7 separate regions of the Homo sapiens genome follow, and all the other regions are reported to be linked to region 1. The links are microRNA targets in miRTarBase. Many come from high-throughput screens and were not tested one by one. Region 1 holds a microRNA gene; each other region holds the end of a gene's coding sequence. Distances are from middle to middle.
What was found. Region 1 holds the annotated microRNA hsa-miR-10a-5p (UACCCUGUAGAUCCGAAUUUGUG, at 2,260-2,282, opposite strand). A microRNA usually pairs through its seed, bases 2 to 8, with sites in the 3' UTR of a target mRNA and lowers its output. Matches are read on the target gene's strand: a 7mer-m8 pairs with bases 2 to 8, a 7mer-A1 pairs with bases 2 to 7 and ends in A, and an 8mer does both.

Region 1 (3,079 bases):
CCTACTTCAAAGGCGCAGGGCCCACCAGGCCATAAAAATTTATGGGGGATGTAATTATGTGGCTCTGAAAACAGGCGACCGTAAATCTCCGGCAATGGCGAGTTTATAGCGGGGACAATTGGCTTCCCCAGCTCAACCCCCCCCCAACCCATGCCTCCGAAGTCCCTTTGGTGTAAAGCTCCAGGGGTGGGAGGGGGAAGGGGTGCCCACGCACTCACCCGTGCTCACGTGAACTTTGCGCATCCAGGGGTAGACGACGGGCTCTTTGCACGCGGAGTGGGACGGGCTGGGGTGCAGGGGGTTCTGGGCGCAGGGAGGCGGCGGGGGGCTGCTGCTGACCGCCTCGCAGCGCTGGCCGGGCTCCGGGAGGAGGGCCCCGGCGGGTGGCGGCGCAGGAGCCCGAGGGGACAGACCGGGCGGTGGCGGGGGCGGCGGGGGTGGTGGCGGAGGCGGCGGGGGCCCAGGGTCCCGGCAGGCCGCGTAGCGCTGCACGGTGCACGCCGCGCGCCGCCCGAAGCCCGCCTCCGGCTGGAAGCTGCTCTCTCGCCTCTGGCCGCCGGCGTAGTACCCGGGCGAGTGGTCGCTGGGTAGGTAATCGCTCTGTGAATATTCCTCGCATGGAGGGAACTTGGGGTCGACATAGTTTGAGTTGATCAAAAAAGAACTCATAGCCATTAATTTCTGGGAATTGCCCACAAAATATACTAAAATTTATTCCGACCCCTGACTCGTTTTCCTGTTTCCGAAAGCCCTCCTACTTACTGTCAAGTGAACAAAGTTAGGCGCCCACGTGATCCTCCGAGCCAATGGCCGCCCCGCCTGCGATTCCCGGATAAGGAAATCTGCTCACCCGGACCCCACTCCAGCCAAAGAGGTTTATTTCCCCTTCTTCCCTTCCCCCTCCCCACCCACCCACCCAACACCAGGATTTACATAGGGCTCCTGCGGGGCGACCCCCTCCTTGCCTCGCTCTCTCCGGGATCAGAGAGAGAGCGAGAGAGAGAGCGCGCGCAGGTTGCGACTGGAGGGCCTGTTGGGGCGCTAGGCAGAGCGCAAACCCTAGATCCCTTAAGAAGTTGGGGCTCCCGGTGTAGCCCTCCTGTTCTGCCTCACCTCTGCCCAGCATTCTGTACCTTCCAAAGGCCCCAGTCTCCTCCCCTCGGCGGGAGGGAGCGCTAGCACCCTGCGTCTCTATGGGGAGTTAGGTTACTGGCGGGTTGGGGGCTCCGTCTCGAAAGGGGAACCCATACGGGGGCCAGAGCACAGAGCTTGGGGCTTTTCTCTGCAGCTGGATGGGGAAGGGTAGGGGTGAGAGAGGAGGCGTCCAGAGCTAGAGGGCGGGTGCGCAGAGGGACTTGTCAGAGATGAATGGAACCGCGGGCGGATCGATAGGAAATTCATGCACTAATTCGGGGAGACTTCGCCTTCCAAATCTCATTTAGCTGCACGGTTAGCTAGACTGTGTCCGTCAGTCCGTCTGTCCCCCTTCTCCTATCCACTCCTCCCTTTAACCCACACGGCCCAAGCCTGGAGAAACGACTTGGTTTCCCACACTATAGACAGAGCGCTGGGGTAAAAAAACCTGCAACTTTTGAGAGCAAAATTGATTAGCAATTTGCTAATTCCATAACCACCCGAGCAATACTAACCATGGGTCCGAGACGTTCTAATTGTCGCCGCCTCCGCGGCGAATAGAAATCTCACATCCCTTTGATACTGGGGATACAGCCATAGAGGTGACCCACACAGACAATAACACTCCTTGGTAATCGAGTATTTCCAGGTCATCTTGTTCTGAACTGAAACGGAAAGGCGGCCTCAGCATCCGTTTGTTAAACAAATTTCCTTTGCCTTCTTCGCACACTGAAGACAAGTCATTTTTTTTCGCAATTTCCAATAAAGCCTCCCTGAGCCCAGAATAGAAAATGGGTGCGTTTGGGACGAGAAGATAAATTTAAAACTTCAACAACAATAACATTAACCTCTTAAAGAGATGTGAAAAGGGACCAAGGCTCCCAGGGGCAGGCGTGGGGAGAGTTCAGGTAGATGATTTCTCCATCTCTAACCAGTTGAAGGAGGAAAAGATAGAGGAATAAAGAGGAAGGAGTCTTCGTGTGGCCAGTCACCAGACTGTCCTCATTCAGAAAAATACTACATATACATATATATATATTTTTTTCTTCTGGAAAAATAAGAGCGGAGTGTTTATGTCAACTACATATTCCCCTAGATACGAATTTGTGACCACAAAATTCCTTACACAAATTCGGATCTACAGGGTATATACAGAAGACAGACAGATCTTCTTGGCCCAGAAATTTTCCAGTTCTCCTACTTTCCGCGCCTTCTTCGTTTGGGGTGTGGTTTGAGTGCTTTGGTTTTATTTCGTTTTGTTCTAGTTTTGAGCTCTGGGAACAGAAAAAGGCAGTGCGAGTCTGTTCTTGGGATTACAAGGTTTTCAATTCTCCTCTTCTATTAGAATTTCAAGTAGCCAGTTCGCAAAGGGACGAGAACCTTGCCTCCGCCGCCGCCGCGCAACTCTCGGTGGCGCATGAATTATGAGATGTAAACATTAGCTAAGCACAAAAGGAGGAAGGGTCATTCTGAGGCTGCCACGAAGTCAGATTCAGGCCTTTCTGGGTGCCTTCGCGCCCCTCCCCTCCCCCCAGGACTTTTTTTTTTTTTTTTTTTTTAGAAAAAACAAAACCCCAATCGGCTCCTCCGTGCCCCTCCAAGCCTTTAGTTTGTGATCAAACGAATATCTAGATATTTTCCAAAGCGCCTCTCAGCGAAGGGAGGAGGAAGAGGCGGCTGGGTGTGAAGGTGGTGTAATAAAAGTCCTTTTGGAAAAATTCAGTGGTAAAAAGAGAGAGAAACAGCTGTAAAGAAAAATGCTGGGAGACCAAGCAGATGGGGCCCCGGATATTTAATGACGGGCAATTCCGTTTACAACCTGAGAAAAGATCAAAGGCGTTTCATTTCCGAATGAAGGGCAATGAGGAACCATAAAAGATGCAGCCAGATGATATAGGGCCCCTCCCAGCCTCTCACACATCCTGGGAGCCAGGAGAGAGGGTCT
Region 2 (3,079 bases), 48 Mb from region 1:
TTCGCTCTTGGTGCCCAGCTGGAGTGCGACAGCGTGATCTCGCTTCACCGCGACCTCCGCCTCCCAGGTTCAAGGGATTCTCCTGCCTTGGCCTCCTGAGTAGCTGGGATTACAGGCAGGTACCACCACACCCATCTAATTTTGTATTTTTAGTAGAGATGGGGTTTCTCCGTGTTGGTCAGGCTGGTCTCGAGCTCCCGACCTCAGGTGATCCGCCTGCCTCAGCCTCCCAACGTGCTGGCATTATAGGCTTGAGCCGCCGCGCCCGGCCTAAATAATAATTTTTAAAAATTACTCTTTTTTGGTTTAGAATTACTTAGCTGAACTGTGCAGAAGCAAGCTTCTGGATGCCTTGATAAAAAGCCAAAGTTGTACACTAGAGGGCTTTAGGATGAATAAAATGTTAAAAAACGCCAACAGGACGAGGTGGCTGATCACCTGAGGTCAGAAGTTCAAGACCAGCCTGACCAACATGGAGAAAACCCGTCTCTACTAAAAATACAAAATTAGCCATGTGTGGTGGCACATGCCTGTAATCCCAGCTACTTGGGAGGCTGAGGCAGGAGAATCGCTCAAACTCGGGAGGCAGAGGTTGCGGTGAGCCGAGGTTGCGCCATTGCACTCCAGCCTGGGCAACAAGAGTGAAACTCCGTCTTAAAAAAAAACAAAAACAAAAGCAAAAACAAAACGCAACAAAGCGAGACATGACAGGCAATGAAATAAATAAAAGGAGGCAGATCTCCTAAAGCCAAAATGTCCTATGCAGACAAACAGCATTACTGTTCACCCTGCATGGTGCCCACTATCATGCACAGTTGTATATTTAGGAGAAAAACGTTTTGGTACGCCAAAATACAAGATAAGCAGATAAAAGGGAAACCTGTGTGTGTTATTTAGTTATTCGGTACTTATATAAACCACTTATTTTACTACAACAAACTTCGAGGGCCACATTATAGCAGCCCAATACACTGGGAAAAGGAGTTTCTTTTCACAAGGACAATATTACTAGAGATGAACATTAAAAATTACTTAATAATCTAATAGAAAATTGGAAAATTAACATACATTCTAAAGAGAAGCAGAAGTTTACCTGGTTATTCAAAGTTCATATAATAATTTCCACATGTATAAAAAAAAAGAGAAGGGCACGGTGGCTCACACCTGTAATCCCAGGCTGAGGCAGGTGGATCACCTGAGGTCGGGAGTTCGAGACCAACCTAACCAACACGGAGAAAGCCCATCTCTACTAAAAATACAAAATTAGCCAGACGTGGTGGCGCATGCCTGTAATCCCAGCTACTTGGGAGGCTGAGGCAGGAGAATCGCTTGAAACCGGGAGGCGGAGGTTGCAGTGAGCCAAGATCACGCCATTGCACTCCAGCCTGGGCAACAAGAGCGAAACTCTGTCTCAAAAAAAAAAAATAAAAAATAAAAAGAACCAATTACCTAGAGGAGGGCCATATATATAACTTGGTTTGCTTTGAAACTCAAGACTGCTTCCCTAGGATATGGAATTCAAGCTGAATGAAAAGTTGTAGAGCTGGATGAGAATTTATTTCTCTCCGTGAAGGTATAATAGCATCACCCCTATAAGAAGATAAGCTCAAATACAACCAAAATTTCGATGCCCTACGCCCTGCCAGTAAGGGAGGAAAGCAGAGGTTACGATTTACAAGTAATTCTCTATGTGTTCTTTGGGAACCAGGATCCTCTGAGTCAATCCCTTCCAATCTCCTAAGTTTATTTTTAAAAATCTGAACCTGGCCACCACTTTACATGATGAGACTTAGAGACTGGTATCACAGCTTGATTTCAGAAGCTTACTTTCAAAAAAAATTTATTCAATGAATACACAATATAATTCCATTTCGAGTGATTAAAACCTATTTGTTGTTTAGAACCAAACAAAACTACAAGAAAACATTTTCAAAACCTTTTTTTTCAGGCTGAAGAAATCGTTTAATCCATTTTAAAGAAATCTCACATGATGTTCTGTCGGGATTAAAAATATACACGGAAAAAAATAAAACAAAATATATACACAGAAAGAAGCTCGCACAGAGTCAGGCGTGCAGCAACGTCACACACTCATTCCTTTCTGTTTCCTCTGGACACTCAAAATGTGAAAGCAAGTAAGAGGGGGGTGGTTAACCAAACCTTTTGGTCCAAGGAATAAAATTTCTTTAAAAAATTTAAAACGTCAAAACCTGCCAGAATAAGACAATAGAAGAGCGTATCGTCAGGCGCTGGGAATGGCACCACGACAAGGCATTAATGTGGATTCACTTGCACAGCTGCTCTCATAAAAGCTACACGATTCAGAGGTAACCCTAACTATCCGCAATCCCAACCAAAGTCATGTTCATGCCGCTGTCCTAGTCTGGACAATCATCTGTCACTCATCCAACACAGTTATATACAGAATGCGCAGTCCCAGCAACAGTGTAGATTACAGCAGGCGTTCTCTACCTGGACTCATGATTGGATTTCATTTCTAAATTACATCAGAGCTTTCAAAGATTGAAATACACAAATCTGCACTACCCAAGCCTCCTTGCCTGTACGGGAAACAAATCAGAAGAGCATTTATTGGGAACTGACACGTCAGGCCTCACAGGTGCTGGGCAGGAATCACAGAGGCTTGCTCTGCATCATGTCTTCCGTTAACCTGAAGCTTTGGGTTTATTGTGTTTGGCAAACCACTCGTCACTTTTATCTGCTGCCATTGCCTGTAAAATAGAAATAGAATATACACTGACTCCAAGCCTGAAAAACAAAAGACATAGCCCACTTTATATCTCACTGTACTGACCACAATAAAAAAAATTAACATTAAAAAAAGGACCCAAACCCCCGCTCCAAAAAAAAGAGAAGAGAAATAAAAAAAATTTTTTAACATTTAAAGAGTATTAATCCAGTACAGAGTGTTATGTTCAATAAGGCAAGAGATACTGGTGATAATGAGCAACTGTGGATCCTCACTCGGCAGAGTCAAGGGCAAACCAAGCCTGTAGCCAGGAAGTGTGGCTGGCGGACCAACGAGGTCAGGGACCCGCATGCCAGGCGGTAGGATCTC
Region 3 (3,079 bases), not on the chromosome of region 1:
CCCCCAGCTCCCGCGCATCAAAACACAACACCCGCCTTCCTCACGCATGCGCAGCAGATGGACGCCGGCCTCGGGGGCGGGGCTCAGCGCACCGGCCCAAATGCGGCCCCTCCCCCGCCGCTCCAGACCCCGGAGGAGGGCAGCGCGACCCTCCCCATCTTGTTACTGGTACTCAGCCACTGGGGACACTGACTGAATGTTCGCCCCTAACTTACCCGGAAAACACGAGAACTAGTTCGATGTCGTTTCAACCTTACCAAACTCTGCGGAAACTTAGGAAATTATCTTTAGTGTCTAGATAGGGGAATTGTTAGATGGACTTGAAGTCTCTCACCTCCTGTTGTACGCCTCCCGGAAGCAACACCAGGAGTCCAACGGGATCCCAAACCAGAGCCCAACCAGTATCCTATAAAGTCTTCAGAGAGGGATCCCCTCCAGGCTGGGGAGAAACAGGACAACCTAACAAAACAGGGCCTGGACTCCTCCCTAAACAGACCACGTTTTTCTCCGCTCTTCCCCTTCCCACTCCCTGAAATCTAGACTAAAACTCTTTTAAGATAACTGCGAGGTATAAAGAACGTCTAGAGCCTAAGCGGCCCGTTGCCAGATTCTACTCCTCAGGCCTCAAATGTGAGCGCCCCAAACATTCTAGAGCTGAACCTGGTACGCTCGCCCACCAAACTGCCGTGCTCGGGGCTTAGTATCTCACGCGCGGCAGTTCAAGAACATCAGACACGCTCAACAAACACTTGTTGCTTGACTGATACATTATGGCGGGTAACGCGTCCCACGTATTTCTTCTTAGAGATATACATTACGCTATACGTTTCTGAAGAATGGCTCGATTTACAGGGGTTCCCACAACGATTTGTCACATATAAAAGAGTGGGTGGTATTTTTACGTCAAAGATGAACAGGCGAACGTCCATCTAAATCGTGTGGTATCAGATGCGGGGAGGCGTGGGGGAGGGAGCGGGGGAGAAAGCGTTAATTCTTCCAGCTTTAGAGCCAGACGTAATATTTAAAACGTGGATTGTTTTTCAAATTAACTTTTAAATGGACACGACAGCACCTTATCCTGCATTAATATTGCATTGCAACTAGAAAGAAAACCAGTGGAGGTACGCCTATCTCCTTAGTTGGCAAAAAAAAAAAAAAAAAAGCAATTTTTAACATTTTCTCGTTTATTCCCCTCTCTAAAAGGCGGGCAAGGCCCCCGATCACGTGATACCGCCCCCCAACTCCGGGCGGAAGAGGCCAGCGACAGCGCTGCACGAAGCGAGTGGGCGGGCGCTCGTGCCCGGCTAAAAGATGGCTGCTGGCGCCTGGCAGCCACCGCCTGGGAGGTTACTGTAAGGCCCGCAGCTCCCGCCAGCTCCCGCGGACTGCTGCCGCCTCCTTACCATGAAGCCAGTAAGTCGTCGCACGCTGGACTGGATTTATTCAGTGGTAAGTCCCGGGGATCGCGGGCCCCCACCGTGTCGACTCACTGGGCCCGCAGGCGGAAAGGCCCTATTTCTTCAGCACCCAGAAACTCCAAAATCCATTCCTGAATTAAGCATTTCACTCCCTCACCTCGACTCCGCCTCTTCCTGGAGGATACGATCTTCCGCTTCTTACGTAAGGGCTGCTGGGTGTACCCGCCACTGGAACCCCATTTATTCGACTTTGTTACTTTAATTCCCACCTTAGCAATGGCAACGGTAACCTGACGGGGGCGAGGGGAAATATCAGGTAGATTTCACACCTCCTTTGCGATTTTTGGTTTAGTTGCTGCTTGCCATCGTTTTAATCTCCTGGGGCTGCATCATCTATGCTTCGATGGTGTCTGCAAGACGACAGCTAAGGAAGAAATACCCAGACAAAATCTTTGGGACGAATGAAAATTTGTAACTCTTCTGGATTTAATTATCTGAAAATACAGTTCTTTCCCTCATGCTTATGTAGATATAAAAATAAAATTCATAATGCAAAGTTCCCAAGTTTATTTTTGCATTATCCTTTATAACAAGCACTAGTATGCAAATTTTTCACTTAGAGATTTTAGTATTTTACATTCTCATGACAAAATTAACAGCAACCTAAATCTGACAGTCTTGAGTGTCAGATCATAGTTGGAATAAGCTTTTCAATCAAGTTTCTAAATTCTTCAAAAATGATTCGGAAAGCTTTTTTTTTTTTTGAGACGGAGTCTTGCTCTGTCGCCCAGGCTCAGTGGCACTATCTCGGCTTACTGCAAGCTCCGCCTTCTGGGTTCACACCAATCTCGTGCCTCAGCCTCCGCAGTAGCTGGGACTACAGGAGCCCGCCACCACGCCCGGCTAATTTTTTTGTATTTTTAGTAGGGACGGGGTTTCACTGTGTTAGCCATGATGGTCTCGATCTCCTGACTTCGTGATCTGCCCGCCTCGGCCTCCCAAAGTGCTGGGATTACAGGCATGAGCCACTGCGCCTGGCCGGAAAGATTTCCTTAAAACAAAAGTGCATGGAATTGCTGTTCTTACATTTGTTTATTGTGATATTTCACTGTTGCATACCCTGATACCAAATTAGTGTAAGTACTGTGTAAGAAAAAAACAAACAAACATGTAACTAAATACTTTTCCATACCGTTTTCCAAGTCAAGAATGACCAGAAAAAGTAGGTAGTCTCTCATATTTGTTTAGCATGTCCACTTTTTACTTATTGTTAAATTACTCAGTCTCAAATTGTACAATGCTTGAAAACAGATATGACAATTTCTGAGATTAAACTTTATTAAAGTTACTTTTCCAGAAAATTCAGTAAATATGGTAATATAGGAACAAACTTAGGCTCATAAGCCTTTTAACTTTTTACATAATCTTTAATGATGTTGATCAGGAAATTCTTTCATTGGTGGAATTACTTCTCCAGTCTCCAGAATTGTATCACCCTAGGAAAACAAAGATACAGTTAGTACAAAAATCTTAAGTCTACAGAGGTGATAGTTCTATTCTGTTCTATGTTCATCAGATCTCACATGGAAAATGTACTTGAGTTCTGGCATTCCCTTTAAAAGGACCCTAGACAAAGTAGAAGCTGACTAAATCTGAACAAT
Region 4 (3,079 bases), not on the chromosome of region 1:
TTTGCACTGTCTGCTTGGGGGGTGGTGAGTACCCCATCAAAGCTGAGCCAAGCCCATTGTTGTTGCCATCTTGCTAGGATCTCAGACCGTGGTGGAGGAATCGCTCACAAAGATCTGGACCGGGTCATGGACTACCACTTCACTACTGCTGAGGCCAGCACACAGGACCCCCGGATCAGCCCCCTCTTTGGCCATCTGGACATGCATAGTGGCGCCCAGTCAGGACCCATGCACGGGTGAGACCCTGCCAGGCCAGGATGGAGGGGTGGGGGACCCCAGGAGACTCAAGCCTCTGAAGCCTCCTGTCCTGTCCCCCTGCCCACCCCCAGCTTTGGCTTCGGGTTGCCCACGTCACGGGCCTACGCGGAGTACCTCGGTGGGTCTCTGCAGCTGCAGTCCCTGCAGGGCATTGGCACGGACGTCTACCTGCGGCTCCGCCACATCGATGGCCGGGAGGAAAGCTTCCGGATCTGACCCCACAGCCTTTGGCCTGCTCACCCGACCAGCCTGGGCCGCATTCCCTGCAGGACCTCCCGGGTCAGGCAGGGCGGCCCCCTGCTCCACACACTGCTGCATCTTGGGTCTCAGGGACCCAGACAGATGGACTTACATGGAGCTGGGCACTGCCCTGCCTCAACAGGGTCCATTGCCTCCTCGCCTCCAGAACTTGGAGCAGGGAAGTGGGCACCCTGAGGCCTCCAGCACCAGTTCCGTCATTCTCGTTCCTGGGGAACCCCCACTCTGACCTGTTATTAAAGTTCACATTTTGAATGCCCTCTCGGGCCCCGTGTGTGGGGAGGGCAGGTGAACTTTTGTTTCTGCCCCCATTCAGGTTCACTGAGCCCTTGGGTTGAACTGGTTCGTGTCCCAGTCTCTTACCTGCCCTGAGAGCCTGGCAGGCCAGGAGTAGAATGGGTCCCAAGTCTGTTGCATGTTTGATTTGGTGGGAGTGGGATGACTGCAGCACCTTATACAAAGAGCTTTCATTCATCTTGTTGAACAAATGTTTCCGGGTCCCAGATAATATTGAAGGCCCAGACTGACCCAGCTTCGGGCATCAGTTTTGACTCTTCCTTTCCTGGCAGTCACAGTTTCTAGAGGTGAAGGTCACCAGACTGGGCAAACTCCTGAGCCAACTGCTTCCCAAGCCTGAGTAGGTTAAAAATACTGTGTCTGCTGCTGCCAAGGAAAAGAACATACAAGGTTGTGCCTTGGCAGGCCCTAGCAGGGACTGGGTGCCCCACTGCAAGGAAAGGTGGGGCCCTGATAGAAAGGACCAAGGATTTGGGCAAAGATATCAGGTAGGCTCAAGGTTAGACCTGAATCAGAACTCCAGATGACATCTTAGGTAGGAACACCCTACCCACCTTGCCAGGGAAGAAAGGCCTAAGGGCGGCCTGGTGGGGCTGGGAGGAGAACTGGAAAGTTCTCTTGCCTTCACATGTGAGCTCCCACAGCAAACTTCCTGAGGCTGGCTCTAGGCCTGTACCATCTCCTACCCTTCACGGGGATGGAGGGGAAGTTGTATGTGGAAGCCAAATGGCAGGGGCTAGGAAACCACAGTGACTTGCTAGACTGAAAAATCCCGCCAGCTGCAAGGCAGGGTGCTGAGGCTGGAGAGGCAGGCAGCAGTCAGAGGCCAGGGCCCTGAAACATGGGATTTATCTTGAGCCATAGGGATCCATGGGTGAGTTTTTATTTATTTAGAAATGGGGTCTTGCTCTGTTGCCCAGGCTGGAATATGGTGGCTGCAGAGTTCACTGCAGCCTTGAACTCCTGGGATCAAGAGATTCTCCCACCTCAGCCTTCTGAGTAGCTTGGACCATCATGCCAGGCTAAATTTTAAAATTTTTTGTAGAAACAGGGTTTCTACAAAGCCCTATGTTGCCCCGGGCTGGACTTGAACTTCTGGGCTCAAATGATCCTTCCACCCCAGCCTCCCAAAGTGGTGGGGTTACAGGCATGAGCCACTGCAGCTGGCCCATGAGTGGGTTTTGAGCTGGGAAGGGATGTTTCTGGTTGGAGTCCCTGAGAGGATTCATGTCCACGTGATTTCTTAAGAAAGTGCTCCCAGAACAGAGTAGGGGAAGTAGGAAGGGGAAGGGGAGGAAGCCAAGCAAGGATGTGACCTCAGGCAAAAGCCCAGAACCAGTCAATTATGCCTCAGGGTTGAAGGTAAGAGAGCTAAACCTCAGAGTTACTGATTAATTTCTCCACTTGGCAGTCACTGGTTAAAGTCAGTTGGGAAAGTGAACAGCTCTATTAACCTAAGGATGGTTTTTTAAGAAGAGCCTCAGGTGCTGGTGTGGGTCTTTGAAAGCACATCAAAGGTAATCTGGGCACACAGAAACAGCAAGAACTCCCAGAGGATCTGGGTGGAGCACCTACATTGTTTTTTTGTTTGTTTTGTTTCGTTTTGTTTTTTTAAACGGAGTCTCAATCTGTTGCTCAGGCTGGAGTGCAGTGGCTGGATCTTCGCTCACTGCAACCTCCGCCCCACCCCCCCCCAACCCCAGGTTCAAGCGATTCTCCTGCCTCAGCCTCCCGAGTAGCTGGGATTACAGGCGCGTGCCACCACACCCAGCTAATTTTTCTATTTTTAGTAGAGATGGGGTTTCACCACGTTGGCCAGGCTGGTCTCGAACTCCCAACCTCGTGATCCATCCACCTCAGCCTCCCAAAGTGCCAGGATTACAGGCATGAGCCACCATGCCTGTCGGATGTTTCTTGATTTGTAACCTCTGAGAGACCCATCCGCAGGCCCTGAGCATTCCACTCCTCTCAGAATTGTTTCCAAGCCCAATAACCACATTATAAATCAAACAAGATTCAGAGAATAGCCAAAGGGAATGTTTACTGAGTACCTACCCGGTCTGGCACTTTGCAATACACTTGTATATTGCTAAGACGGATAGTTCAACCGTTACATAGTTATATGATTGATAGTTATACATGCTTAACTGCTGGGGATTGGTTCCAGGACCGCCTGTGAATACCGAAATCTGCAGGCGCTCAAGTCCTACAGTTGGCCCTGCCAAACAGCAGATATGAAGTCAGCTCTTCAGATCTGTGGGTTCTG
Region 5 (3,079 bases), not on the chromosome of region 1:
AAAAGGCAAAGAGGTACTGGCTACTCCCCTTCCTGGCAGGCCAGGACTGGGTGGCATGCGGTCCTGGGACCAGGGCTGTGGCTTCCTGTGACTCCATGGCGCCCCATCCTTGTGCTCCTCAGGAAGAAGAAAAAGCTGCCAAGAAGAAGAGCAAACACAAGAAGAGCAAGGACAAGGAGGAGGGCAAGGAGGAGCGGCGACGGCGGCAGCAGCGGCCCCCGCGCAGCAGGGAGAGGACGGCTGCCGATGAGCTGGAGGCTTTCCTGGGGGGCGGGGCCCCGGGCGGCCGCCACCCTGGGGGTGGCGACTACGAGGAGCTCTAGGCCGGCGTGGGCAGTGGCCGCCCTGGGGCGGGGGGCGTGCCTGTCACTGCCTGGGGAGGCATTTGCCTCTGTACCATCGCCTTTGCCGCTGCCCCGTGGCTGCCGTGTGCGCTTCTGAGCTGGAAGAGGCCGGGCATTGGTGGTCCCCAGGCTGGGCCCTGCAGGTGCTGGGCCTTCAGGCCCAGTGTGAGCCTGCTCTGCAAGAAGGGAGGGGACAGCTGGCTTCAGCCAGGCTCGGTGGACACCCTGGCCCTCTCGGGGCAGAGCCGCCAGTGTTTCTCAGGGATGTGACTGAGGCCCAGGAGGGACCTGTGAGGGTCTGTTTACAGAGGCTGGGCAGGGGCCGCTTGGCTGTGGGGTGTGCGCTGCCCCGGCACCTGCTTGCCCTCCGCGCTCATCTGGGGCCGCAGCATGCCTATGGTTCCGCTTCCGGCCGGGAGCCCTGAACACGGGTGTGCAGACTCACCCTAAAGGGCGGCCCAGGCCCCACGCTAGAAGGCTGGCGAGACCGAAGGCAGCATGTGAGGCCTCTCCTGGGAGTGGGGGTTGTGTTTCCCACAGTGGCCTCAGCTGCGCCCCCGCTCAGGTGAGCCCGAAGGCAGGAGCCGGGAGGCACTCCTCCCAAACACTCCACTCAGACCATAAAGCACTCCTGTTTCACTCTGCGTGTGTCTGTTCTTCTGCCTGTACCTCTGCTCCCGCTGCCCCGGGCCCAGGCTGCCGTGGGTTGGCAGGAGGCTGCCCAGCAGTGGTGTGAGGACGTCCCACCAAGTCTGGCCACACCCTGGGTACATTCCAGCCCACCTGTGCCAGGGCTCAGCAGCTGCACGCAGCACGCTTGGCGACCTCAGCCCCAGGAGGTGGAAGTCCACTCTGCAAGGCTCCCAGGCAGCCGCCTGCAGCCCTGCCCCCCGCCTTCAGGCTCCTGCCCCCTCCAGCTGTCAGCAGCGCCCAGCCTCCACCCCCACAGCTACTGTTGCCATGAGAACCCTGCAGGGCAGGCAGGAAGAGTGTGCCAGTGAAGGGGAGGAGGTGGCCAAGCTGGAGGCTCCTCTGCCTGGGAGCCTTGTGGCCCCAGGGTGTTGGGCAGTCACTGCAGTCCCTGAGCAGGTGCTGTGGCCCACAGCAAGCTTAGCCTGGCCCCTTAGCCCACAGCCCATGAGGTCAGGGCCGGGTTCAGGGGTTCGCCTGGTGTGGGGATGGGTCGACAGTACGTGAACTTGACAGGATCACACCATGGACGGCTATGTTGGGGTTTCAGTGGGCCCTGCTTTGAACAGTGCAGAATGGGGTAGGTCCTGCCCTTCAGAGCCAAGGGCATCAGCTCCCCACCCCTCTGCCAAGCTAGAACGTTCCCAGGCCCAATGCCTTGGGGAGGGGCTGGCAGAGTGGGACGAGGACATTACCAGGCAGGTATGGCAGGTCACGTGCAGGCCTTCCCAGGCTGGCAGGGACCGGATGCAGGAGTGGCCTCACCCAGAGAGGATGGCATCCTGGGGACACAAGAGGCTGCAGGGGCCATCTGGCCCCAGGTACCCGCCAAGATTTTGGCATTGGCAGCCTTGAAGCAGATAGGGCCTGGGGAGAGGCCAGTGGGGCACAGAGTAGCCCATCTGCTCCTGCCTCGCCCGACAGGAGATGCGAATTCCAAGATGCCCCTGACCAATCTCTGCAGCCCAGGCCAGGGTTCGGGCCCCTCCTCTCAGGCAAGTGTGTTGGGGTGACACTGGCGGGACTGGCAGGCTGCTCCGGGCCACAAGACTCCTGCTTAGACACTGAGGTCTGTGTCTTGGGGGTGCTGCAGGGACCCTGTGCTCTGCACAGCCCCAAATTGGAGCCAGTGCAGCTCATGATCCCCAGCTCCACGGTGCAGCCCCCACTGGGTGCGGCCCCTTTAAGTACAGCCCCTTCAGCTGCCATCAGGGGCAGCACTGAGCAGCCAGGCCAGGATCCGCGCTGCTGCCTGGAAGCTTCTGCCCGTGCCGGGGACGCAGCAGTGCCGGGGACACAGAGGAGCCGACCTGGGGGTGGCACAGCCCACCGGGGCACAGCCAGAGCAGCACCCAGGTAAGGGGCTAGGGGCCGAGTTGCTGAGTGTGTCACCGTCATGGGCGGGGGAAGCTGCCTTAGGGCAGCCGAAAGGATGGGGAGTCCCCGCCCCCAGGCAACACCGGCTGTATCCCTTGAAGGGCCGCTCCCAGCCAGGGCAAGGCAAGGCAAGGCAGGGCTGGGAGGTGGGGAAGGCCGCCAGCCATCTCCGTGGGCTCCAGAAGGCCTTGGGCCCGGGAGAGGGCCGACCCCACCCCCATCCCCACGGGAGGGGGTGTCACCGACAGCTGCAGCCAGCAAGGCCGACTGTCACCTCCCTGGGGTGGAGCCTCACACCCTGTCATCCGGCCGGATTCCGGCCTGGCCTTGAGCTTAGCATGAAAGAGGGAGCAGGAGGGTAGACAGTCCTGCCACGGGTGGGGTGGAGGGGGGAGATGGGGGGGTGGGCGGGGGAGGCTGGGATGGGCACAAGGCCTGGGACTCGTGGCCCTGACCCAGAAAAACAGCCCTGCCAGCAGGAAGCCCCTGCACACCTGGGACACAGAGGGGGGACCCGGCCAGACCCCGAGAGGCCCATCCACCTGAGGTTCTGCCCTGCAAGGGGCCTGGCCAGGTACCCGCTTTCCCCAGCTCACTCTGGGGTAGACCCCCCAGACCAGGTGTTGGGTGTGCAGAGGCCAGGCCTGTGGCCACTCTCTGACGCACCC
Region 6 (3,079 bases), not on the chromosome of region 1:
TTCTTGTTCTTAGGAATACATGCTGATTCCTCTCAAAGGATAAAAGGACATGATGTCTACAACTTTCTTTCAAATTGTTCAGAGAAAAAACTGATATCTAACTATATTTCTGACATCCATATATACATACACATATATAAATGGGGAGAGAGAATGATAAAGCAAATAAGTTCTTTGTTATGTTCTTATAATTCTTCCATAATTTTGAAGTTCTTTCCAAATAAAAAACTGACAAATAAATGTATTTGGAGATCATGAATTTCCCCATCACTTGAAGTACTCAATTCTGTTGAATAATTGTATTAGAAACAAGTGTGATTTTAAAGGAAAATACAATTTGTGAAGTTAACCTCTCATTTTATTTTTTTTTTTTTTGCCAATTTTTCTTAAGGATGGCAAAGCAGAAAAAGCTGACACCTCTACTTCTGGGAAAGCAAGTATGAAATCAATTCTTGAAAACCTGAGTGATCTTTGGGATCAAGAGCAGTATGATTCAGAGTACAGCCTGGAAAATTTTATGCATTCTCTCAAGTAACTATCAAATATTGTAAATGCAATTGCTGCTAGTTCAGTTACATTTCTGCTGATATTCAGCAAATTTCTAAGTTTATGGTGAACTTTTAACTCAATGTGTAAATAGATCTGGAGAATATTCAGCATAATGCTGGCTCTTGTTTCACTGGGGGAAACAAGTTATTCTCAAATATTTGCACTGTATTAAATTTAAATGTTAATGTGAAATGGTTTAAATTTTACATGCTGAAAAGCTGCAGAGCAGAGGAACCAAACCAGGTTTATTTGTGCTACCAGGAGGTGTTCTTAATGGGAACAGGCCTCCTATCTTTAGTCACTTTGTACAGGATGATATCCATGAGTACTTTAGTGTTTGTATATGTTTTTTCTTTTAAATAGAACTTGTTTTTATAATTGATTTAAAATAGGGCTTTTTTTCTATAAAAGCCTTAATGAGCCATAATTTTAAGAATATAAGAATAATGACTATGATATTGGTCAGTCTTAGAACATGAAAATGTCAGACAATGAATTTAATCGGGCCCTTGGTGGAAACATTTATATATTTAATGCAGATGCATAGTGTTTTTCAAATCTTTAACATCATTTTTTCAACTTTTAAGATATAATATCAACTATTCTAAATACAGGTAATGGTATATTTAAGGCTACCATAACATCCTATTTAGAGGGTGGTTTTTTTTAATTTATCTAATGGCTACGATATAGCCAGATTCAAATAACATATGTACTCAATAGGTTTCAATCATATATATAATATATTTTTTGTAACTATGAACATACACAGTTTTCCAGAAATAGATTTTACACTGTTTAGAATTCCAACACCTACAGTGGAAAGACTGTTTATTGTAGTAATGCATGGCTGAAGCATAAAAGGGAGAGAGAATTTCTTTATATACACAAACATACATGAATATGCATATCTATATGCATAGATGTACCTATCCTGCACCCAAAAAGGTGCCTGGTATTGGCACTAAAATCATGTAGTTATACTGGGCAGCAATAATAATTGGGCATGAGGCTGATTACTCAATGGTGAGGGTAGGTATATGTAGATAGATGTGCATGTATGTGTTTGTATATATAATTTTATAAGTTTCACGCATAAATTAATACATGCCTGTGTGCATACATATGTATGGGATATATTTGTATATATATGTACAGGTAATAAACATCCCCAAGGTTTGTGGCTGGCCATACACATAGGCATCAGTTTAACAACCATCAGACCTCAGCTGTACAATAACAGGTGTTTTGTTTAATTAAAATTATACTGTTCTGCAGCATTTAGACATTTGTCACATTTCATTAGCTTTGACAACCATACTGTAACATTAAACCTAGCATTCCACAAGAGAATAAATATAAGATTGAAACTGTAAAATATATGCAACTGTGTGTTATTTGTAGGAAATGGTCACTAGAAAGAGCAAAAGATTATTCAGGTATACAGGTTTTTTTTCATTGTTTAGGATTTTAACTCAAAACTTTATGTAGAACATTTCAGTATATTTGAGTTGAATATTTTTTTATTAACTATTTATTTGCTAGTTCCATAAACCAGCTCTTTAACATAGCTTATAGTAATTGATATTTTCTTAGAATAAGTACAGAGCAATATATCATTAAAGGGCTATGAAGGGGCAAAAGAAATCACACCATAAAAGTTAGTACTTTTTCCCAATCTGAAATGTCAGATAGAGCTAGAAGTCAGATATTTAGGCTGTTTAAACTTTCTGAGAGTTTAATCAAAAGGTGTGTATTTCTAGAAGGATGACTAGAAAAATGATGTGTGGTTGCTTCTGAATGGGAAACAGGAGTCAGAGCTGACAGGAAAACTTAGAGTGGCTATAACATTTTTAAAATAATCTTTTGAGTTGTAAAATAGTAAATCACACATTCCAACTTTTCCATAGAAAGGAAAACATGTAAACAGGTAAGAACTAAGTATTCTTAATTAAATGACCCAGTCATTGTAGTACATCTTAAGAATAATGAAGAGATGTGGAGAATTGAACTGAGTAATGAATGATATTAAAGAACTGCTGTCAATTTCATGGATGTGATGATTTGGTAGTTTTTTCAATGTATGGGTGTGGGAAGTCAAACAAGCATGATAGAATGTTAACTATTTTAAACTGGGAATTGGGTTCATAGATATCCATTGTACTACTTCCCTTGGTTTTTGTGTCTTTATGATAGGAAATAGCAAACTGTTAAAAATATAGATTCAGAGATTATTAGTCTTATCATTTGGGTTTCTTGTAGGAAAATCTTAACATTTGGGGGCCTGGGTATAATTTTTGTTTCATATATTCACTCATATATATGCTTATTGTATATGCTTATTTATTCTACAAACATTTCTCCAAAAAGTATTCTAGTGAAAGGGTAAAAGTCTTTGATGTTGGGACTGATTGAACTGGTATAGCCTTATTCCTTCTGGATGGTTTATATGAACTTACTTATTCAAAAGTAAATATTCCACTGAAGCTATTTGAGAATGTGATCACTTATAGACAAAAGTGGAATTCGA
Region 7 (3,078 bases), not on the chromosome of region 1:
GGGCCTGGACTCTTCTCCTATATCCGCCACTGGGACCAGAATGAGCGTTTTCTGGTAGTGCTTAACTTTGGGGATGTGGGCCTCTCGGCTGGACTGCAGGCCTCCGACCTGCCTGCCAGCGCCAGCCTGCCAGCCAAGGCTGACCTCCTGCTCAGCACCCAGCCAGGCCGTGAGGAGGGCTCCCCTCTTGAGCTGGAACGCCTGAAACTGGAGCCTCACGAAGGGCTGCTGCTCCGCTTCCCCTACGCGGCCTGACTTCAGCCTGACATGGACCCACTACCCTTCTCCTTTCCTTCCCAGGCCCTTTGGCTTCTGATTTTTCTCTTTTTTAAAAACAAACAAACAAACTGTTGCAGATTATGAGTGAACCCCCAAATAGGGTGTTTTCTGCCTTCAAATAAAAGTCACCCCTGCATGGTGAAGTCTTCCCTCTGCTTCTCTCATAGCAGGAATTTCTCTCCTTCCTCCCCTCCCATGCGTCTCCTCCAACTCCTTCATTATTTATGTAGGGTCCCAGGGCCAGAGGAGAGGGGGCCTCCCAAAGTCAACAGCATGGAGGTGTCAGGGCTGGGAAAGCACCCATGCCTCACCCATGCTGGGCCACGGGGCTCTCTGGACATCTTGGGTCTTGCCGACTCTTAACTTCATCCCCTTCAGCAAAGGGCTCTAGCCAAACATAGTTAGTTTTCCTGTTTTTGCAGACTTGGCCTTTCACGGAGAGTAGGGGTGGGATGGTCTGGTTTTTAAAAGGTATTTCTAAAGGATACTAGAGGTCATGCATTCAAGAATTTGTTGAACACTCAGCACATACCAGAAACTGTCCCTGTTCTGGGGTCACAGCAGGGAACACAGTACAAAAATTCCTGCCTCCTTGGGGCTCATACCCTTTGGGGAGCAAAGAAAAAAGACACAGCTGTTGTAGTGCAGAGGATATGGTGACAGTGTTTTTATGGAGGAAAAAGTAAAGCAGGAAAGGTGTTTCAGGGTAGAGGGGGCCAAAGGAGGCCTCACCACGGAGGTGACCTGTGAGTAAAGGCCTAATAAGTGAGGGAGTTCACCTGGTGAGTATCTGGGGAAGGGGCTTCCTGGGACTGAGGGGTGGGAGCCTGGCTGATATGAATGAGGAAAGGAGTAAGGGATGAAGTCTCATCGGCAAGGAGTGGGCAGATCATGACAGTTGTAATAAGGTGGTCACGTAGGGTGCAGAGAGTTTGGCAGCCTACGTGGTTGGAGGGCATGGTCCCCACAAGTCTGTTTTCACTTCAATACCAGCTGCAAGTTCAGGGGTCCCCATGACCACCTTCAGGTAGGTAATAGACTAGAGTGACTCAGAACTCAGGAAGGTATTGGGATTATGGTTTTATTACAGCAAAAGCATACCCAGAGCCAGCCAAAAGATGAGAGGCCTGGGGCGGGGTCTGGGAGGGAGCTAAATAAGAAGCTTCCTGCTATCTTGCAATGGAGTCCTGGTACTTCTTCCCGGCCATGACGGAGATATAACCAGAGAAGCTCACTTGATCCTTGGGTGTGCCGAGTTTCCCCTGGTGTTTAATCACATAGTGCCCTGTGGCTGACCTTTAATCTTCAGCCCCTGTGAGAGCTTTGGGCTAAGGCCTTTAGTTGTCTCCATTTCCCCCAGAGGTTGCCTGTTCCAAAGCTCAGATCGTAAATCACATTTATCACTGACACTCCTGTTGGTCAGGACATTCCATGGGTCTAGAGGGCACTTACCAGTAGCCGAGGGTAAAGGCCAGACTTCCAAGTAAGAATTCTTCACTACACATAGAGTCTGAGGGAGTGGAATGGGAGTTGTTGGAGGGTTTTGAGCAGAGTGACATGGTCTCGCTTGGAATTTAACAGACTTCACTGGCTGTTACTAGCCAGCTTGCAGGGAGGCCAGTTAAGATGGTTTGTTCCTGCAACCTAGAATACTTTCTAGGATGGTAGTAGTGGAGGTGGTAAGAAGTGTTAAGAAGTGTTTGGGTCCTGCGTTTCTTTTTTTTTTTTTTTTTTTTTGAGACTCACTCTTGTCACCTAGGCTGGAGTGCAGTGGTGCGACCGCTGCAAGCTCCGCCTCCCAGGTTCATGCCATTCTCCTGCCTCAGCCTCCCGAGTGGCTGGGACTACAGGCGCCCGCCACCACACCCGTCTAATTTTTTTGTATTTTTAGTAGAGACGGGGATTCACCGTGTTAGCCAGGATGGTCTCGATCTCCTGATCTCGTGATCCGCCCACCTCGGCCTCTCAAAGTGCTGGGATTACAGGCGTGAGCCACGTGCCTGGCTGGTCCTGCGTTTATTGTGCAAGCAGATCTGCAGTATTTGCTGTTGGGATCCTGTTGCAGTACTAGTGATCTGCGCAGGCCTCATGGCCCTTGGAGTTAGTTCGGCTCTCTTAGTTTTCTTACAGAAAAGAATGCTGGCTGGGTGCGGTGGCTCGTGCCTGTAATCCCAGCACTTTGGGAGGCCGAGGCAGTTGGATCACCTGAGGTCAGGAGGTCGAGAACAGCCTGACCAATATGGCAAAACCCCGTCTCTACTGAAAATACAAAAATTAGCCGGGCATGGTGGTGGGCGCCTGTAATCCCAGCTACTCGGGAGGCTGAGAAAGGAGAATTGCTTGAACCTGGGAGGCGGAGGTTGCAGTGAGCAAGATCACACCACTGCACTCCAGCCTGGGCAAAAGAGCAAGACTCAGTCTCGGAAAAAAAAAAACAAAACAAAAAACGCGGGTCACTGGTGCAGGCTTCACTTCCCATGGGCTGTGTCCTGGAGTGGGCCTGGGCCTCTGAGGGTTTCCTGGTGTAGGGGAGAGATCAAGACATTAAAAGACCCAAATTAAGGCCCAGGATCCTGAGGCTGTCAGCACAGTTCCTGAGAAGACACTCAGCCTGCTGGGCCTTGGCTTCCCTCTGCCTAGGGTTTCCCTTCTCTCTCAGCAACCACCCCCACACCCGCCCCACCTTCTGGCTGTTGCCTGCTCTGGGCCTCTTCCTGAGGCTCCCCACCCTTCCCTGTCCATGTCCTTTCCCAGGGTCCCAGCTCCAGCCCTCCCCCTTTCCTCCTTCCTCTGCCTCCT

Region 2: miRTarBase lists GLOD4 as a target of hsa-miR-10a-5p. The part of its 3' UTR that is shown has no 7-base or 8-base seed match.
Region 3: miRTarBase lists NDUFB6 as a target of hsa-miR-10a-5p. Seed matches in the 3' UTR shown: 7mer-A1 at 2,535-2,541.
Region 4: the mRNA of BCKDK is a reported target of hsa-miR-10a-5p. Seed matches in the 3' UTR shown: 7mer-m8 at 637-643.
Region 5: the mRNA of RABL6 is a reported target of hsa-miR-10a-5p. The part of its 3' UTR that is shown has no 7-base or 8-base seed match.
Region 6: miRTarBase lists BTAF1 as a target of hsa-miR-10a-5p. The part of its 3' UTR that is shown has no 7-base or 8-base seed match.
Region 7: miRTarBase lists SLC3A2 as a target of hsa-miR-10a-5p. The part of its 3' UTR that is shown has no 7-base or 8-base seed match.

What each region holds. Positions count from the first base shown.
Region 1 is chr17:48,577,645-48,580,723 of GRCh38, forward strand. MIR10A (microRNA 10a) reads right to left here and starts at 2,303; the gene lies at 2,194-2,303. All of the region lies in intron 1 of HOXB3 (homeobox B3), which reads right to left. HOXB4 (homeobox B4) reads right to left here and starts at 706. Exons shown (of 2, transcript NM_024015.5): 1 at 219-706. The coding sequence starts at 675. HOXBLINC (HOXB associated long intergenic non-coding RNA) reads right to left here. Exons shown (of 1, transcript NR_183916.2): 1 at 2,673-3,079.
Region 2 is chr17:757,507-760,585 of GRCh38, forward strand. It overlaps GLOD4 (glyoxalase domain containing 4), which reads right to left. Exons shown (of 9, transcript NM_016080.4): 9 at 1,824-2,732. The coding sequence ends at 2,667. Among named protein-coding and RNA genes, the nearest start is that of GEMIN4, 6.8 kb to the left of the region's middle.
Region 3 is chr9:32,551,031-32,554,109 of GRCh38, forward strand. NDUFB6 (NADH:ubiquinone oxidoreductase subunit B6) reads right to left here. Exons shown (of 4, transcript NM_002493.5): 4 at 1,971-2,914. The coding sequence ends at 2,846. It overlaps TOPORS (TOP1 binding arginine/serine rich protein, E3 ubiquitin ligase), which reads right to left and starts at 1,556. Exons shown (of 3, transcript NM_005802.5): 1 at 1,404-1,556. The coding sequence starts at 1,406. SMIM27 (small integral membrane protein 27) reads left to right here and starts at 1,297. Exons shown (of 2, transcript NM_001387564.1): 1 at 1,297-1,449; 2 at 1,771-1,977. The coding sequence starts at 1,405. The coding sequence ends at 1,893. RefSeq lists a silencer at 117-336 and enhancers at 616-1,330, 977-1,186, 1,197-1,526, 1,331-2,044.
Region 4 is chr16:31,111,792-31,114,870 of GRCh38, forward strand. BCKDK (branched chain keto acid dehydrogenase kinase) reads left to right here. Exons shown (of 12, transcript NM_005881.4): 11 at 78-236; 12 at 330-1,000. The coding sequence ends at 474. Among named protein-coding and RNA genes, the nearest start is that of KAT8, 4.3 kb to the right of the region's middle.
Region 5 is chr9:136,840,200-136,843,278 of GRCh38, forward strand. RABL6 (RAB, member RAS oncogene family like 6) reads left to right here. Exons shown (of 15, transcript NM_024718.5): 14 at 1-13; 15 at 123-988. The coding sequence ends at 323. AJM1 (apical junction component 1 homolog) reads left to right here and starts at 2,279. Exons shown (of 3, transcript NM_001080482.5): 1 at 2,279-2,390. RefSeq lists silencers at 1,178-1,472, 2,419-2,748 and enhancers at 1,642-2,523, 1,969-2,108, 2,098-2,392, 2,524-3,079.
Region 6 is chr10:92,028,399-92,031,477 of GRCh38, forward strand. BTAF1 (B-TFIID TATA-box binding protein associated factor 1) reads left to right here. Exons shown (of 38, transcript NM_003972.3): 38 at 392-3,039. The coding sequence ends at 535. Among named protein-coding and RNA genes, the nearest start is that of BTAF1, 110 kb to the left of the region's middle.
Region 7 is chr11:62,888,439-62,891,516 of GRCh38, forward strand. SLC3A2 (solute carrier family 3 member 2) reads left to right here. Exons shown (of 9, transcript NM_001013251.3): 9 at 1-422. The coding sequence ends at 255. Among named protein-coding and RNA genes, the nearest start is that of SLC3A2, 9.1 kb to the left of the region's middle.